Regions from separate parts of the Homo sapiens genome. Here region 2 is linked to region 1. The links come from fine-mapping of genetic effects on gene expression. A gene starts in region 1. The other region holds a variant in brackets. All regions are shown on one strand. Distances are between the middles of the regions. Region 1 holds the start of BORCS8 (BLOC-1 related complex subunit 8). Region 2 overlaps BORCS8-MEF2B (BORCS8-MEF2B readthrough).

What was found. PIP is the estimated chance that this variant, and not a neighbour inherited with it, causes the effect.
Region 2: its variant is fine-mapped to the expression of BORCS8 in cerebellar hemisphere (GTEx, PIP 0.97).

What each region holds. Positions count from the first base shown.
Region 1 is chr19:19,190,997-19,193,808 of GRCh38, forward strand. It overlaps BORCS8 (BLOC-1 related complex subunit 8), which reads right to left and starts at 1,156. Exons shown (of 6, transcript NM_001145784.2): 1 at 1,085-1,156. The coding sequence starts at 1,121. It overlaps BORCS8-MEF2B (BORCS8-MEF2B readthrough), which reads right to left and starts at 1,156. Exons shown (of 12, transcript NR_027308.2): 1 at 1,085-1,156. It overlaps RFXANK (regulatory factor X associated ankyrin containing protein), which reads left to right and starts at 1,262. Exons shown (of 10, transcript NM_003721.4): 1 at 1,262-1,558; 2 at 1,964-2,104. RefSeq lists an enhancer at 2,039-2,128.
Region 2 is chr19:19,164,053-19,167,025 of GRCh38, forward strand. The region is part of intron 5 of BORCS8-MEF2B (BORCS8-MEF2B readthrough); the gene reads right to left. All of the region lies in intron 1 of MEF2B (myocyte enhancer factor 2B), which reads right to left. Among named protein-coding and RNA genes, the nearest start is that of MEF2B, 4.7 kb to the right of the region's middle. The variant A/G (reference allele first, on the strand shown) is at 1,498.

The DNA.
Region 1 (2,812 bases):
ATGAAGTGATGTGTAGGCCTGTATTATGTATTCTAGATGTGAGTAATCTAGGGTGATTTAAAGTATAGGGGATTAGCTGGGTGCAGTGGTTCACACCTGTAATCCCAGCACTTTGGGAGGCCAAGGTGGGTGGATCACTCGAGGTCAGGAGTTCGAGACTAGCCTGAGCAACAAGGTGAAACCCCGTCTCTACTAAAAATACAAAAAAATTAGCTGGGCATGGGGGTGTGTGCCTGTAATCCTAGCTACTCAGGGGGCTGAGGTTGCAGTGAGCTGAGATCCCCCCACGGCACTCCAGCCTGGGTGACAGAGCGAGACTCCGTCAAAAAAAAAAAAAATTAAAGAATTAGCCTGATGTGGTGGTGTGCACTTGTAGTCCCAGCTACTGGAGAAGCTGAGGCAAGAGGATCGCCCGCGCCAGAGAGATCGAGGCTACAGTGAGCCATGATCGCGCCACCGCACCCCAGCCTGGGCGACAGTGTGATACCTTGTCTCAAAAAAAAAAAAAAAAAAGGAAACAAGACGCACAGCGATTACTACGCCCCGGGGATTCTTCCAATGCATTACAAATATCAGGTTGTTGAGTTTTTTTTTTTTAGACAGGGTCTCACTTGTCACCCAGGCTGGGGGTGCAGTGGCACGACCGTAGCCCACTGCAGTGCAGCCTTGACCTCCCGGGCTCAAGCAATCCTCCCACCTTAGCCGCCCAAGTAGCTGGGACCACAGGCGTGCGCCACCACGCCCGGCTAATTTTTGTATTTTTTTAGAGACGAGATCTCACTATGTCACCTAGGCTGGTCTCGGGCTCAAGCGATCCTCCCGCCTAGGCCTCCCAAAGTGCTGGGATTACAAAGCCACCACTCCCAGCCTCAGCTACTGAATTCTTGAAACAATCCTGGGGGGACCGGTAATTAAAGCAGACACGGAGCCTTTCTACAGGTTTCAAAACTAGTCAGCGGCAGAGCTGGGATTGGACGGCAGTTCAATCACTGCTCCTCGCACGGTCCCTCCGCGCCCGGCCTTTGTCAGGCCGCCCCTCCACAAGTTACCGGCCCCCTCTGTCCCGCCCGCAGGCCCGCACCACCTTTCTTCCCCTTGAGCTGCATCTCCGGCTCCTCCATAGCGACCGCGGCCGAGCGAACCGGGAAACGGCACCGGAAGCCCGGAGGTTGGGACGCCCGCCTAAGCCTTCCCTGCTGAAACCGGACGCCGCACGGCTCCTGTTCCGGTGTCAGAGGGCCCGCCCTCCCCGCTCCTCAGTCTTTGCGGACAAGAAAGGGGCTGTGTGAGACGCAGGGAAGGAGGCACACCCGGGGGTGGCGCAGTGAGGAGGGGGCGCGACGGCCAGGAGGCTGGTGGAGCGACACCCAGGCAGGAGAGGGGGAAGAACTCTCTCCCTTTCTGAACCCCCTTTTCCTTGAGAGACGAGTTGGGGGAGTCCTCCACGCATTACCCACTCGGGCCGCAAAAACTCCCTTCTTTAGCCCTCTGCCCCCGCCCTTGCTTATAAGCCTTTGAGACCGCAGAAGGGACCTTGTTGTGGAACGGGACGGCCAAGGTACGCTGCCCCTTTAAGTTCCAGACGCCCCGCGTACTTCCCCTACTTCTTCTTCTTGAGATAGCCCCGCCCATCTACCCGAAGCCGGAGCCAATTGGCTCCCTCTGGAAAAATCTGTGGGCAGGGTAAAGGTGAGCGGGCGCAGGCGTAGTGAAATTCTCAGAGCCCTTTAGGCCCCGCCCATTCCCTCCGAGTCGGTGAGGAGGGGAAAAGAAGGCGCAGGCGCAACTGCCCTCCCAGGACCCCAGCGGAACCCACGCCCTCCCCTAAGTCTTAAAGGGCCAGAGGCAGCACTTACTGCCCGGGCCCTTCCTCACTTTTGGGGGGCGGGGGTGCGCAAGCGCAGTGGGGGAGCTCTGGGGTGGGGGTAGCGGTCGAGTATCAAGTTGCTTTCTGTCCCGGCAGAGGAAGCCAGATCGCTGAGGGTCCGGTCTCCAGTTTGCCTCCTGCTATATCCATTGGAAGAGAAAAGTTTGTGACTTGGGCCCCCAAGTTTTGAGAGAACTGGGCTTTCGGCGCGGGGGGACAGAGGAGGCTCGTGGGGAGGTGAGTGGACCTCCTGGATCGATTTAGGAGGCTCGGGTGGGACTGGGACCAATCGCACCTTTGTTGAGCCGTCACTCATTATGGGGAGCCCCTCCCAACAACCATAGCGAATATTTATTGAGCTCCACGCTTAGCAGATCCCCCGATAAGCTATGTACAGACATAATTCGTTGTAGGTCTCATTTCCACATTTTGTCGTGGAGGAAACTGAGGCTCAAAGGTTAAGTCACGTGCCCAAGTTCTCACGGCCTATAAATTGAGGGATTCGAACCCAGACAGCTGACCCCAGAGCCCCGGCTTTTTTTTCCTTTCTTTTTTTTTTTTTTTTTTTTTTTTGAGACAGAGTCTTGCTCTGTCGCCCCAGCTACAGTGCAGTGGTGCGATCTCTGCTCACCGCAACCTCCACCTCCCGAGTTCAAGCAATTCTGCCTCAGCCTCCCGAGTAGCTGGGATCACAGGCGCCCGCCACCGCGCTTGGCTAATTTTTGTATTTTTAGTACAGATGGGGTTTCACCATGGTGGCCAGCCTGGTCTCGAACTCCTGACCTCATGATCCACCCTCCTCGGCCTCCCAAAGTGCTGGGATTACAGCCGTGAGCCACTGTGCCCTGCCAGAGCCCAGGCTCTTAAACATTGCACATTGTAGGTGCTTTGGTGGTGGGGAATGGTAGACCTCGAAAGCAGTTGGACTCTGGTTTTCATTTCCCT
Region 2 (2,973 bases), 27 kb before region 1:
GCCTCCCGGGTTGAAGCGATTCTCCTGCCTCAGCCTCCCTAGTAGCTGGGATCACAGGCTCGCCCCCACCATGCCCAGCTAATTTTTTATTTTTAGTAGAGACAGGGTTTCTCCATGTTGGTCAGAATGGTCTCGAACTCCTGACCTTCAGGTGATCCACCCACCTCAGCCTCCCAAAGTGCTGGGATTACAGCCGTGAGCCCGGCCCTACTTGTTCACTTCTCACTGAAACACCTCATGGTCCACACAACAAATTTAAGGCCCCATCCAGCCCACAGGCTGCCAGTTTGTGGCCCTTCCTCTAAACAACCTTCACAGCAAAACAGCCAATTGGACAGTGCTGATGCTCCTCTCAGGCCAAGGAACTGGCCCTCTGAAGGTCCCACTGCCCAGCTTGGGAGAAAACCACGTCCAGGTGACCATCCATGGCAAACCTGACCTGGCACAGGCACCCTCACCTGCCAAGAAGGCCTGTTCCAGGCCGGGTGCGGTGGCTCACGCCTGTAATCCCACTACTTTGGGAGACCGAGGTGGGCAGATCACTTGAGGTCAGGAGTTTGAGACCAGCCTGGCCAACATAGTGAAACCCCATCTCTACTGAAAATACAAAAATTAGCCGGGCATGATGGCGGGCGCCTGTAATCCCAGCTACTCAGGAGGCTGAGGCAGGAGAATCACTTGAACCCAGGAGTCAGAGGTCACCCAGCCCATGGAGCCAAGACAGACCCCGCAGTCTGAATTTGACCCTGCTGTCCCATGCAGGCTAGAGTCTAAGGCCCTCTCAGGCCCCTAGTGATGTCCCCTAAGCCACAGTAGTGGCTGCAGGGACAGCCCAAGGTTTTCCTCTCTTTGTTCCAGAGAAAGCTCTCCCTGCGGGGCCTCAGAAATGGATCCCCAGATGCCCCAGCCTCCCTGCTTGGGAAATTAGCACATCTGTCAGCGCTGGGCAGAAGGGACCCTGCCCACAGCCCGGCAGCCCGAAGATGCAGCCAGCAGGGACCCCGAGATGGGGCTTTAGGACACTGTCAGTCCCCAATATCTTCCCGCAGAAATGTCTAGGAGCCCCTCAGGTGCTGGGGATGCAGGAGCAGGGGGTGGGCAGAGCAAGGCCTCCCCCCATCACCCAGTCTGATGGGGGAGGCAACAGCAGCCACATAACCGTATCTGGGAAGACGGCCTTCAAGGAAGAAATTCAACAGGGGGAGGCAGTGGAGGGTGGCAGGGAGAGAGCTGCTTTGGACAGAGGATCCAGGAGGGTACCACACCTGTAATCCCGGCTACTCAGGAGGCTGAGGTATGAGAATTGCTTGAACCCGGGAGGCGGAGATTGCAGTGAGCCGAGATCGCACCACTGCACTCCAGCCTGGGTGACAGAGCAAGACCCTGTCTCTGAGGTGTCTCAGGGAGGTGGGAGCCAGGTGGACACAATGGCAGGTGCAAAGGCCCTGAGGTGGGACTGTGCTAAACAGGTGGCTTCCAGGAGCAGGCAAACCCCAC[A/G]CATCTGGGGTGGAGTGAGCCAGGAGTGGCCAGAGACAGAGAAGGTCAGAGAGGCATTGGGGGACAGAGAGAGGGTGGACTGTAGAGCAATAGGGAGCCATGGAAGGTGTGTGAGGAGGGGGAGGACTGTGGTCTGATTTGGAATTTTCAGAAGACCCTGTGGCCTGTTGGAGCAGGAAGCCAGGCCAGCATCCAGCCAGGGATGGTAGGGCTTGGACCAGGCACAGGCCACAGGTTGGAACAGTGGGCAAGGCAGGCCCATGCCCACAGCAGCCATGACTCTTATTACAATCCACCTCCATTTCTCCCTTCCTCAGGCCCCACCTTGACCTTGGGTGAAACTGGGCTTGGAGGGAAACAGCACCTGGCAGAGGGCAGAGAGGAAAGGGGCCTGGATGGGCTCACAAACACCTCCACTTGGTCACAGCCCAGATGGGACCTTCTGTTATTGAGCCCTTACTGTCTGCCCGGGCCCACACCCCGCCTCATTTACATATAAGACCTGCCTGACCCCCAGACACCCCAGGGAAGCAGCGATAGTTGCCCTGTTTTGCACAGGAGTGGGCAGGCTTCTTCCAGGGCCACATGGTGAGACCTCCAGATCCCCACCCAATCCTGGGCTTGTACCCCAGGGCCATCACGTGGCACCTCAATCTCACCACCCCCACCCAGGCTGGGAAGTGGGCCTGGGCTTGTCCAGCCCAGAATCACCGTCACAGGGTCCAAGAAACTCAATCCTGGGCCGCAGGGTATCAGGGTAACCACACAAGTCCCCAAGATACAGCCCCAGAGAGGCCCTTTGGGGGCTGAGAAATGGGATTTAACTTCCTTGCCCACCCCATGGGGAATCATGGGCCAGGGCTGGGGCGAGTTCCCTGACCCCAAAAGGGATCCCAGACACATTTCTAAGTCGTCTCAGAAAAATGGCATCTGGTTGGGCTCATGCCTGTAATCCCAGCACTTTGGGAGGCCGAGGCAGGAGGACCATTTGAGCTCAGGAGTTCAAGACCAGCCTGAGCAACATAGGGAGACCCCCCCATCTCCAATTAAAAAAAAAAAAAAAGCCAGGCAAGGTAGCACTCCCCTACAATCCCAGCTACTCGGGAGACTGAGGTGACAGGATGGCTTGAGCCCAGGAGTTCAAGGTCACAGGGAGCCATGACTGCAACACTCAAGGAAAGACAGAAAGACATCTGTCTCTAGACCACTCTGTGCCTTGAATCTTCCAGAAGGGCAGGGCGTGGTGGCTCATGCCTCTAATCCCAGCACTTTGGAAGGCCGAGGTGGGCTGATGGCTTGAGCCCAGGAGTTCGAGACCAGCTTGGGCAACATAGGGAGACCTTGTCTCTATAAATAAATAAATAAATAAGTGGGCCAGGTGCGGTGGCTCACGCCTATAATCCCAGAACTTTGGGATGCCAAGGTGGGCTGAGTGCTTGAGTACAGGAATTCACGACCAGCCTGGGCAACATGACA